Homo sapiens: one gene and its partner. The protein of the gene in region 1 interacts with the protein of each later gene in a biochemical or structural test. Each region holds a gene or a part of one and is shown in the gene's direction. Other genes may lie near its edges.

The links.
Region 2: the proteins of PTPRZ1 (region 1) and CNTN1 are reported together in a solved structure, tested with the Homo sapiens proteins (one study listed by IntAct).

What each region holds. Positions count from the first base shown.
Region 1 is NC_000007.14:122,037,143-122,044,172, forward strand, and holds part of PTPRZ1 (receptor-type tyrosine-protein phosphatase zeta isoform 1 precursor), read left to right. Parts: intron 1-1,612; coding exon 1,613-1,747; intron 1,748-2,311; coding exon 2,312-2,446; intron 2,447-3,673; coding exon 3,674-3,837; intron 3,838-5,465; coding exon 5,466-5,601; intron 5,602-7,030. UniProt on the Homo sapiens protein: Protein tyrosine phosphatase that negatively regulates oligodendrocyte precursor proliferation in the embryonic spinal cord. Required for normal differentiation of the precursor cells into mature, fully myelinating oligodendrocytes.
Region 2 is NC_000012.12:41,066,418-41,072,924, forward strand, and holds the end of CNTN1 (contactin-1 isoform 1 precursor), read left to right. Parts: intron 1-3,541; coding exon 3,542-3,618; 3' UTR 3,619-5,998; downstream 5,999-6,507. UniProt on the Homo sapiens protein: Contactins mediate cell surface interactions during nervous system development.

The sequences.
Region 1 (7,030 bases):
CGGGCGCCTGTAGTCCCAGCTACTCGGGAGGCTGAGGCAGGAGAATGGCGTGAACCCGGGAGGCAGAGTTTGCAGTGAGCCGAGATCGCACTTCTGCACTCCAGCCTGGGCAACAGAGTGAGACTCCGTCTCAGAAAAAAAAAAAATGTGAAGGGCAGGGCCAAGGCTTATTTTAAGTTTCCCATAGCTCCTGGCACAAGGATGTGCATTTAGCTGATGAACAAAAAATTTCCATAGTAGTACTGATTAAAAGGCAAACATGATTATTAATCCAGTTATCAACCTTTATAATTTTGGGTATTCCTCAGGATACCCAGCTTTGTGGAACTTACTGGGACTCTCCAGAGACTGTAGACCGCTCACTAACTAAATTGGTTTTTCACTGTGATCACCTGAATGTCAGCAGAACTCAATTACTTCCCTAAGATGCACCTCTCAGTCTAGCTGGCTTCAGGTTAATACTGTGTGGAATACTGAATTCAAATAAATGAGTACATAAGTATAAAGTGGGTTTGTTACAGGCAACTGTTTCATGCTTCCTGAGGAGGAAATATGCATGTCAGAATGAACATGAGATCTGGAGTTAGAACTGATTTTGAATCCCATCTCTGCCACTGGCTAGCTGTGGGACTTTGGAAAGCCACTTAACTCCTCTGAGCTTTAGGTTCCTCATCTCCACATCAGGGTTGATGCTTCCATTTTGCATAGATGAAAGATTAAGGTTCACGTTCTGTATTAGTCTATGAAGGACACTGCTATGAAGGAATACCCAAGACTGGGTAATTTATAAAGAAAAGAGGTTTAATTTTCTCATAGTTCTGCATGGCTAGGGAGGTCTCGGGAAACTTACAGTCATGGTGAAAGGCACCTCTTCACAGAATGGCAGGAGAGAGAATGAGTGCCCAGTAAGGAGGAAAGCCCTTTTTATAACCATCAGATCTCATGAGAACTCACTCACTCTCACGAGAACAGCGTGGGGGAAATCACCCTCATGATTCCATTATTTCCACCTGGTTCCTCCCACAACACACAGGAATTATGGAAACTACAATTTAAGATGAGATTTGGGTGGGAAAACAGCCAATCCATATTATGCCCATAAAACATCTTGTACAAAATGGGACACAGTGACGAATTGCTAATAATGATTAGCACTTCTCAGCACGTTGAAGTAGAGTAAGGAGGTTACACTCCAGATGCTTTTTTAAGCTGTTGTAGACATCTGAGCCCAGTGCCTAAAATACATTTCAAAGCAGTGCTATTAAAGACTTGATTTTAAGCATAGCAAGTAGACCGCAAATGGATTAAATACACTTGGAATACAAATGCACAGAATTATAGTTGTGTCAAAGCAAAGAGAGCTATTCTTTTTTTTTTTTTTTTTTTTTTTTTACAAAAATGATAGGGATCCTTCTGCTTCCTAACCAAGAGTATTTTCTAACCAAGAGTAGCTATCTTAGTTGGTACCATCAAATTTCTCCAACTTTGCAAGTTTATTTTTTATGGTTTTCTTTTACGAAAAATTATGCTGACCTTAAAAACTTAGGCATTGTACAGTTAAAGATGACATATAAATCAGTTAGTAGGAAACATTTGTCATTTAATTCTTCAGGGCTACAACAGACCAAAAGCTTATATTGCTGCCCAAGGCCCACTGAAATCCACAGCTGAAGATTTCTGGAGAATGATATGGGAACATAATGTGGAAGTTATTGTCATGATAACAAACCTCGTGGAGAAAGGAAGGGTATGTAGATAATCTGTTATGTCACCCCCAAAAAAGTAATTAGAGGTACTTTAAATTAGTTTTAATAGAGTCAGCATTAGGAAGGAGCCAAAGTTTTGAGAGTTATTTGGGATTCTTTTTTAGTAAATATGACAGCTAAAGGGAAACTGTTAATACTGTTAGTCAAAAAGTTTCATTATGAATCATGCTATCTGCCTTTTAAACGCATTCTTCATACTGTGGGAGAAGTAAATGGGACTCATTGAAAAGCAATGTAGAGTGAAATCGATTTTAATTCACAGGACATGGATTTTAGTCTTGGCTCTGTAACCTGAATCTTCTGACTCACTTGCCTTATCTGAAAGGGGAAATTTTAGGGTACCTCATCTCAGTCTCGTTCAGCTCTCAGATTCTATCCCTAGCCTCCTCCACAACTAATTTCAGTCACTTATAAAGAAAATAAAACATTTAGAAGAGTGAAGGAGTCCATTCCTGTCACCATCTCAGACCTTTACTGATTTCAGGGAATGACTTTTACATGGAGCATTTGAAATACAGAAGTAACATCTACATTTTCTTTTGCAGAGAAAATGTGATCAGTACTGGCCTGCCGATGGGAGTGAGGAGTACGGGAACTTTCTGGTCACTCAGAAGAGTGTGCAAGTGCTTGCCTATTATACTGTGAGGAATTTTACTCTAAGAAACACAAAAATAAAAAAGGTGAGTCAACAAAATGATGGGCATAATCAAGTGAACAATGCATTTGGTCATTTTTTAAGTGAATAAGCGATAGAACCAAGAAAGGGTAAAAAGCATATAACTAAAGGCATTAAAAATTCTTGTAACCAGGCCAGGTGCATGGCTTATGCCTGTAATCCCAGGACATTGGGAGGCCAAGGTGGGTGAATTACTTGAGGTCAGGAGGTCGAGACTAGCCTGGCCAACATGGTGAAACCCCATATCTACTAAAAATGCAAAAATTTGCTGAGTGTGGTGGTGCACACTTGGGAGGCTGAAGCACAGGAATCACATGTACCCAGGAGGCAGAGGTTGCAGTGAGCTAAGATCATGCCACTGCACTCCAGCCTGGGCAACAGAGTGAGACTCTGTCAAAAAAAAAAGAAAAGAAAAAAAAAAAGAATTCTTATCACAGCTGCCGTCAGTCCTAAAGGTTTCTTTCAGGTCTCTAGATGCCTGTTGTGGCTTTGGAGCCAGACTGGTTTTGTTGCTGATGTTTAAAGTGAATGTGATACATGAACAGAAATTCCTACCTTGTGTGGCAACTGCATAGGATGGCCCTGACACAATCCCAATATTCAACTAAAAAGAGTGGAGAGTGAAACAAGAAAAAGAAAGGAAACACGAAGAATAACGTATTACTCAGGTTCTTCAAAGAAACAGAACCAACAGAATAGAGAGATAGAGAGGTTTACATTTTTAAGAATTGACTCACATGATCATGGGGATTAGCAAATCTTAAACCTGTAGGACAGGCTGGCAGCCTAGAAATTCTGGTAGGATCTTTACGTTGCACTGTTGAGAAGAATTCTTTATTCTTCAGGTAACCTATCCTATCAGTCTTTGTTCTTACAGCCTTCAAGTGGTTGAATGGAGCTCACCCACATTATGGACTATGATTTGCTTTACTCAAAGTCTGCTGACTTACATGTTAATCACATCTAAACAAAATACCTTTACAGCAACATTTTGTGTGATTAGTGTTGACCAAACAATGGGCCACCATAGTATAGCCAAGTGGACACAAAATTAACCATCACAAATGACACTCTACTTTCTTTCATTCATTATGGACCCTCAACATCAAATCAAGCTATGATTCCTGACTTGCTGTTGAAGAACCGTGTGTGTGTGTGTGTGTGTGTGTGTGTGTGTGTGTGTGTGTGTGTGTGTGTGTTTGACTGTTATTAACTGTCTGAACTTTTCCAGGGCTCCCAGAAAGGAAGACCCAGTGGACGTGTGGTCACACAGTATCACTACACGCAGTGGCCTGACATGGGAGTACCAGAGTACTCCCTGCCAGTGCTGACCTTTGTGAGAAAGGCAGCCTATGCCAAGCGCCATGCAGTGGGGCCTGTTGTCGTCCACTGCAGGTGAGTCTCAGAGATGTGCCTCTAAACCCATAGAATTGCTTATACTTGCAAAAAGGAAATCAATGGAACAAAGCTTTTGCCCAAATGGGAATGATTTCTTGAAATGAGGGTGATGAAATTATATGTTCATTTTCATAAGTATTGATCACTAGGAAATGAACATGCCAGACTCAGAATTGGATTGCTGAATATTTCTAAGCACCACATATTTTTTGATGTTGATTATTTTATTTGATTGTTCAACTGCATTTCAGCTTATTAACTATTTGAGGCAGGTGGAACAATGTTTTTGTTGTTAAACAAATATTTACCTCAACATATAATACCATGGGATAAAAATGCTTGAGCTACAACCCCTGTCCCTAGGAGTTAAAATTCTGTTTTAGAATTATTATGCCAGGCTTGTATCACAGAAGCCAAAGCACACAGATTGTGAGAAATTTGGCAAAATATATTTAAGTTGTTTTTAAACATTTTGGGACCAGAATCCCTTTTTCATTTTCTTGAGTTTTAATACATTACATTGAATGTATTGTCAATTCATTGTTGCCAAGATTTTTTAATTTCCAAGACTAGGTTGATAAATAGAAATAATGATGTTTCAATGAAAGAGGAAAAATGTTGAAAATCCTTATTTAATGTTTTCAGTTAAAATAATAATAGCAGTTAATATTTATTGAGTGCTGACTGTGTGCCAAGCCTTAGATCACAAAAATCAAATTTGTTTCTATGTGAAGTATTGTTATCAAAGCAGTGTGTTTTTAGAGAATCAAGTGTTTGCCTTTGATATATAGCTTATCTAACACATTCTAATTACCATCTCAGGAGTTAAATTTGAGAGACCCATCTTGAGGCTTTTTAATCTGTTAGCCTGATTATAAACTGAGGAAAACAGGAAGATGCAAGAAAAATAGTGCTGAAGGTCAGGGATTGTTTCCTAGCAAACGGAGAAGGACCAGGCTATTGTGCAGAGCAGGTGCTAATTTTCCACTCTAGCACTTCCTACTTGTCGGAACATTTGAAAAGAATCCCTGTCCGTGAATTCTGTCCCTCTGCTAGAGGCTTTGAAGAAGTCGATAGATAATGGCCCTTTAGAAATAACTGAAGTCATGCTTTATTCCTCACAATCTCACTGAAATGATATTTTCAGCAGAAAGCTTTATCAAATTCTTTTTCCCATTAACGCAGAAATCTTTACAAACATGTCTACCTGGAAACATAGACCTAGGGACTTTTTCTTTTCAGAATTTGGTGAAGTTAAAGCTTTCACTTTTGTCAGATTAAATGTCTATTTGCCACACTCTGATACATAATATTTTCATTGTACAATATACAATGAATAATAAATATGGTTTTTGAAAGTTTTAAAATCTCCAACAGATATAGTGAGGTTGTTTTGCAATTAGACACATGACAAAACATTAGAAAGGGTACTTCTAAATTTGTTGTGTAAAGCATTACGCTTAATTACTAAACTGTTTACAATATTGAATTGCCAAATGTATTGTGTGGCTCACTCGCTTGAAGAAGGAAGTTATTTTAATCAACATGACAACCAGTAGTGATCTATTTTTCAAATTTATTTTATGCTTAACATTGAAATATTTATTTCTTGGTCTTCTCTTCAGTGCTGGAGTTGGAAGAACAGGCACATATATTGTGCTAGACAGTATGTTGCAGCAGATTCAACACGAAGGAACTGTCAACATATTTGGCTTCTTAAAACACATCCGTTCACAAAGAAATTATTTGGTACAAACTGAGGTATGATTTTTAAAAAGATGATTTTATTCATCTAAGGTATGGAAATGTCACTAAAATGTAGGTGTATTCATCTCCTAGGACTGCAAAACAAAGTAATACAAACTGGGTGGGTTAGAACAACAGAAGTTTATTGTCTCATAGTTCTGATGTCTGTAGGCCCATGCCCTTCCAGAAGCCTCTAGAAGATTCTTCCTTGCCTCTTTCATCTCCTGGTAGCCCCATGCATTGCGTGGCTTGTGGCAGCACAATTCCAGTCTCAGTCTTCACTTGGCTGTTTCCCTCTGTGTCTGTGTCTGTATCCAAATTTTCCTCCTCTTATAAGCATACCAGTTATCCTCCTCCTCCAGTTGATCTCATCTTAACTGATTACATCTGTAACAAACTTTTATGCAAATAAAATCACACTCTGAGTTATCAGGCGGTTAGAGCTTTAATATATCTTTGTGGGGGGACACCATTCAACCCATGACACCAGTAACTGCAGCTATGTCATGAATGAGCCAGATAAATTTTATCTGTTTTGTGACCCCAAATAGGGAATATCCTTTAAAATGACACTGGTCACAGAGAAGATACAGCAAAAGTCTAAGTAGAGTGGTCCACACACATCCTTGCTAGCAAAAATCTCAAGTTCTTCATATACATAGTGGATGAATCAATTCATTTTTTAAAAAAATATGAATTATGCTTAAATTATATCCATTTTAAGCCCATATAGTTTACCCGTAAGTGACAGAACAGTGTCAGCAAATCTGCATTTTATCTTCACTGTTTCTAAATAAAAATGAACTTAAATGGAAACCTATGAATGGCAGCTTGAAAGCAATCAGAAACACATGGCTGAGTGGGCTTCAAAACGAAACCACACCAAACATCCTTCCATCCATTATCCTAAGCAAACTTACACAGGAACAGAAAACCAAATACCACATGTTCTCACTTATAAGTGGGAGCTAAATGATGAGAACACATGGAGACATAGAGGGGAACAACACACACTGGGGCCTTTCAGAGGGTGGAGGATGGCAGGAGGGAGAGAATCAGGAAAAATAACTAATGGACTAATGGGTATGAGCCTTAATACCTGGGTGATGAAATAGTCTATACAACAAACCCCCATGACACAAGTTGACCTGTGTAACAAACCTGCACATGTACCCCTGAACTTAAAATAAACATTAAAAAATAACATTCTGGTCATATAAGACCAAGAAAGAGTCCCGTATGTGAAATATCAGAGAACTATTAACTATATATAAAATTGAGTTAAATTGTATATGACAAGCGAAAAGGAGAGTTGGCGTTGCCAGAAGGGGTAGGCCCACCAGAAGTGTAGAAGTCAAGAAAGCCCTCTCATGAAGTATAGAGGTGTCAAGTTTGAAGGATAGGCAGAGAGGACATTCCTTTGCCTTGCCAACTCTTCCTGCCT
Region 2 (6,507 bases), on another chromosome or scaffold:
TCAGGGCCTACAATGGAGGCATAACTCAATCATTTAACATTATAGGTTGAGTACTTTCTATGCACTAGGCTTGGTATTAGTCAACACAGCTAAAACATAATTTGGATATCATCTCTGTCTTGAAGTTGTTCATAATATAGAGATATTAGCAGTTGTGGTCACAAAATGTGACACCACAAAGAGAAAATTCTAAATGTTATGGCATCGTCAGCAATAGGCAAGCAGTAGAAACAAAGACTGCATCACAGTGTCCAGATTGAAGAATCAGAAAGGAAGTTTGTATTAAAAACCAAGTAGAGCAGTTTTCTACTTATCAGAAAGCCTGCAGTACTGCTCAACTTTTAATTGAAATGTCTGTTTTCAGCATCACTCTCCATATAGCGGGAATTCTCCCTGAAGGAAGTATGAAATCAAAGTTTAGATTTAAAAAAAAATCAAGAATTCCCATGGAAGAGATATAGTACTCCAAATTGGTTTTACATTTCTTCTGATAGAGAAAAATTATTCACAAGATCAATGATTTGTTCAGGTTTAACATTCATCAGCTATGTGAAAAGCAAAATATGTGTTTACTATATAACACATAAGTACCAGAATTATGATTGATAGCAGTATTCTGATATATATGTTGTTAGATTCAAAACCAATATATATTGAAAAACTCCTCAAGAATATATGTCATTTAAAATGACATTAGATAGTACTTCAATTCGGTCTCTAATTTCTGTTTGGAATGTGGGATAGAAGTAAAGATGAAGACCAAAATTACATAAGCTTGAGCCATTAGAGAAATTAAATATAACACACGTAAACATGGAGAGTTTATTTCAAATATCCTGATGTCAAAGCCACAAATTATGAAATTGTATTTGGTTTTCATACTAGTACCAAAACATCAAGATGGCATCCACAATTCACTAAATTTCTTTCGAGCAGCCACAGTTTGTACTTTGCCAACCCACATATTCAGCCAAGTACATAAACATGTCCCCATGATAGATGTAATTTGTGGTCAAAAGACAGAGCATTGTGGAGACCCTGCAGTCATCCTCAGACAAAAAAGGCTTCAGAATGATGATTTCCAATTCCTATCACAAGAACAAAAAACCAAACACCGCATATTCTCACTCATAGGTGGGAATTGAACAATGAGATCACATGGACACAGGAAGGGGAATATCACACTCTGGGGACTGTGGTGGGGTGGGGGAGGGGGGAGGGATAGCATTGGGAGATATACCTAATGCTAGATGACGAGTTAGTGGGTGCAGCGCACCAGCATGGCACATGTATACATATGTAACTAACCTGCACAATGTGCACATGTACCCTAAAACTTAAAGTATAATAAAAAAAAAAAGGCTTCAGGATGGATCATTTACACTGGGTCAAACATTGACGTTTAAAGGTTTTACTGTGTGATTGAGGTTTATTATTGGGCATCTTATCAGAATAAAATAATGTGTGGTCTGTGGCATATTTTAAAAAATTTGTAGAAAAGTAGAAGATAAAAAAAATTACAAGAATACAAAGATCTCTTTGAAACAGTTTATGTGTTAGCTTTTTTCCATATGACATTTATTATTTTCCTTCTGTGCCCTTGCCTTGATACATTAAGTGCAGAGCGCAGTTTCCTTCTGCATTTCTAAAACCAGTCCCTTGCTAAAGCTACCTGCAAGAACACGGCAGAGAGGTCAAAAGTGCATGGCCTTTGCAGCTGGACAAATTTGAATTCTAATCCCTTCTCTGCCCTCTAGTGACTATTGGACTTGAGCAACTCATTTTACCTGACTCAGTTACAAAATATATAAAATTAGGGTAAAAGACCTACCATTGTAGGTTGTTGTAGTCATGTCATAATCTACATAATGAGCCAACATAGTCTTGTAGCTGGCTGTAGGGCAGTAAGTAGCATCTCTCAAAGTAATGATAAGTTTACTATTGTTATTGATAGTGTCCTTAGGAGCTCTGCTACTTGAGGGCTGTTTATATTCCCCTTGTTATCTGCCCTCACCTTTTGACCCTCACTTTCCTGCTCATTTCTAAGAACTACTTTATCTGTATCCGATAAAGCTTTCCCTCTTATGTTTCCAGGCAGCTCCAAAAGCCCCAGGCAGGGCAATGTTGAAGACAAGCAAGCAGACAGACACTATTATCTTCCACCTTATAGGGAACATGAATGTGCTTTTAATGACCAGAGATTCAGGAGAAATGCACTAAATCTCCCTGAATATAAAAGGACCATGCCAAAGAATGAGCTGTTTATGGTCACTTTTAATGTGATAGATAATAATAATTTATTTGGTGGTTTCAAATTTAGAGAGTAAACTTCCAAAAATTAATGAAAACTGTTATATTAGTAAGCCATTGACTAAATTTTTTAGGTCTTCACTCATTCTAGCAGCATGTTCATTGAAGATAGTGCCAGCCAGGCATGGTGGCTTATGCCTGTAATCCCAGCACTTTGGGAGACTGAGGCAGGAGGATCACATGGGCCCAGGAGTTTGAGGCTGCAGTCAGCTATGACTGAACCACTGCACTCCAGCCTGAGCAATAGAACAAGACCCTGTATCTTAAAAAATAATAATTAATTTATTTAAAAAGAAGATAGTGCCTAATAGTTGTGGACATTGGGAAGAAAGAGTATGACTTTTTGGTCCTACTTTACAATAGTTTCTCAAAAATTCTCATGTCGGCAGGACACGGACCCATAAACTTACTTGACTACAGGAGTAGCCCTTCTAAGTGTCACCCAAGACGTAAATTAAGTCCATAGCATATTATAATACATCATTTCAATTTTTAATTCACAGTGTAATATCTCAGGGCAATTGTTCTTTAGATAAAAATTGAATGAGATTATTTAATATCAGAAATACATTACTTAAGTCATTCTGTATAAATGTATAAATGTCTTAAAACCATTGGGATGTGAAATTATGCAAGATTTACCTAGCATACCTATGTTGTCATTGTTTCAGGAAAAATTATTAGTATTTTTACTGTATCTCTTTTTTTACATTTTATTATTATTATACTTTAAGTTTTAGGGTACATGTGCACAATGTGCAGGTTTGTTACATATGTATACAAGTGCCATGTTGGTGTGCTGCACCCATTAACTCGTCATTTAGCATTAGGTATATCTCCTAATGCTATCCCTCCCCACTCCCCCCACCCCACAACTTTATCTTATTTTTAAAACTTACTTTTTTAATGCATGTATATATGTTTCTTGACATTTTGCCTTCTGGTAGGAATTTGGGACTGCTGGATCATAGGGACAGCATACACATTTGTGATCATATTATTTTAAATGATTAATCATGTTGTGTAAACAGTTCACATGGTCTCACACAGAAAATCTTTGATCAAAAGCTTTTGTTTTTCTTAAATCATGTAAGAATAAGAGATTCTGTTTTGTGAAAGGACCCATTTGTTTTCCAGGGCTATGCAATCTCGCCTTAGCTGAAGCAGACTAAATGAGCAATAGTGACATGTATCAATGAAATAATATGCACACTTTTGGTTTACCTTGCAGGTGCACCCACCCTATCCCCAAGTCTTCTCGGCTTACTGCTGCCTGCCTTTGGCATCCTTGTCTACTTGGAATTCTGAATGTGTTGTGACAGCTGCTGTTCCCATCCCAGCTCAGAAGACACCCTTCAACCCTGGGATGACCACAATTCCTTCCAATTTCTGCGGCTCCATCCTAAGCCAAATAAATTATACTTTAACAAACTATTCAACTGATTTACAACACACATGATGACTGAGGCATTCGGGAACCCCTTCATCCAAAAGAATAAACTTTTAAATGGATATAAATGATTTTTAACTCGTTCCAATATGCCTTATAAACCACTTAACCTGATTCTGTGACAGTTGCATGATTTAACCCAATGGGACAAGTTACAGTGTTCAATTCAATACTATAGGCTGTAGAGTGAAAGTCAAATCACCATATACAGGTGCTTTAAATTTAATAACAAGTTGTGAAATATAATAGAGATTGAAATGTTGGTTGTATGTGGTAAATGTAAGAGTAATACAGTCTCTTGTACTTTCCTCACTGTTTTGGGTACTGCATATTATTGAATGGCCCCTATCATTCATGACATCTTGAGTTTTCTTGAAAAGACAATAGAGTGTAACAAATATTTTGTCAGAAATCCCATTATCAAATCATGAGTTGAAAGATTTTGACTATTGAAAACCAAATTCTAGAACTTACTATCAGTATTCTTATTTTCAAAGGAAATAATTTTCTAAATATTTGATTTTCAGAATCAGTTTTTTAATAGTAAAGTTAACATACCATATAGATTTTTTTTTACTTTTATATTCTACTCTGAAGTTATTTTATGCTTTTCTTATCAATTTCAAATCTCAAAAATCACAGCTCTTATCTAGAGTATCATAATATTGCTATATTTGTTCATATGTGGAGTGACAAATTTTGAAAAGTAGAGTGCTTCCTTTTTTATTGAGATGTGACAGTCTTTACATGGTTAGGAATAAGTGACAGTTAAGTGAATATCACAATTACTAGTATGTTGGTTTTTCTGCTTCATTCCTAAGTATTACGTTTCTTTATTGCAGATGTCAGATCAAAAAGTCACCTGTAGGTTGAAAAAGCTACCGTATTCCATTTTGTAAAAATAACAATAATAATAATAATAATAATTAGTTTTAAGCTCATTTCCCACTTCAATGCAATACTGAAAACTGGCTAAAAATACCAAATCAATATACTGCTAATGGTACTTTGAAGAGTATGCAAAACTGGAAGGCCAGGAGGAGGCAAATAATATGTCTTTCCGATGGTGTCTCCCAAGTGTTGGTGCTTTGGGTTTTTATAAGTTGTGAAAAGGAAGATGCACATTTCTTCATTCTCCATGGTGTGCATGGAAATGTGTTTGAGTGTGGATGTAAAAGAAATCGAGTAATAAAGAATTAGCTGGCTTGTGAAATAGTGCAGTGTTGGATGCTTCAAGAGGTATAATCCTATTTTATTAGCACAAACTTGCTAGCTAATTAGAGTTTATCTTTTTAGAAAGGACACCGTATAGGTTCGTAAAAAATATTTACAGGAAGCAAAATAGATCTATTACTACTTTACCGACTTTACCCCCTTTCTTTAATTTGTATAATTTTTGTACTATATATCGATGTGTAAATGTTTAGAGTCTTCATTATGAAAATATCAATAAATATTTCATTAGTTTACATTTAACTCTGGTATAAAATGAAACTTTTAAAAATAAGTGAAATGGATGATTTCCCAGTGGAAGTATGTCAACAGTCTTAAGATCATTGCCAGATTTCATAAAATATTTAAGTATTTGAAAAAGAAACAAAATGTCTTCATACTTTAGGGAAACGAATACCCTGTATACCTTCTGTACAAATGTTTGTGTTTTCATTGTTACACTTTGGGGTTTTACTTTTGCAATGTGACCCATGTTGGGCATTTTTATATAATCAACAACTAAATCTTTTGCCAAATGCATGCTTGCCTTTTATTTTCTAATATATGATAATAACGAGCAAAACTGGTTAGATTTTGCATGAAATGGTTCTGAAAGGTAAGAGGAAAACAGACTTTGGAGGTTGTTTAGTTTTGAATTTCTGACAGAGATAAAGTAGTTTAAAATCTCTCGTACACTGATAACTCAAGCTTTTCATTTTCTCATACAGTTGTACAGATTTAACTGGGACCATCAGTTTTAAACTGTTGTCAAGCTAACTAATAATCATCTGCTTTAAGACGCAAGATTCTGAATTAAACTTTATATAGGTATAGATACATCTGTTGTTTCTTTGTATTTCAGGAAAGGTGATAGTAGTTTTATTTGATACTGATAAATATTGAATTGATTTTTTAGTTATTTTTTATCATTTTTTCAATGGAGTAGTATAGGACTGTGCTTTGTCCTTTTTATGAATGAAAAAATTAGTATAAAGTAATAAATGTCTTATGTTACCCAAGAAAGAACAACTGTCCTTTCAATTTACCTCAAGTTTAAATTTTTTAGAAGGTTTTCATTACAAGTTCGATAGCAGGGAATAAATATTCTGGTTAAGCAACAGTTCAGTATTTGAAGTACTACAAAAAGTACACACATAGAAACACACACAGAGTCATTATTACATTGAAATAAGTTCACCTGGTAAATAACTTCAACCCATAAAGATGTCAGTGAATATCATTCAATGTAAAGTGAAACACTAAAGCCAGCTGCTAGATGCTAAGAAAATGAGACTTTGTAACCCTGAATGAGCGAGTCTGGAATAGAGGTATCTGCATAATGGCATGAATCTATAGGAGGAGTCTGCTACAGGTAAAGCTTCTGAGTCCTGAGACAGGCTGGGCCCAGAAAACTGCATCCCACGGCTGCCTGTGTCCTGCCTTCCCATTTTCTCCTGTGTTCTGATCGTGGTTTCGCATTGGAATTCTCATCTCCCTTCCTGTTTCATGAAGCTTGCTTCACCCTGGATTCTGGT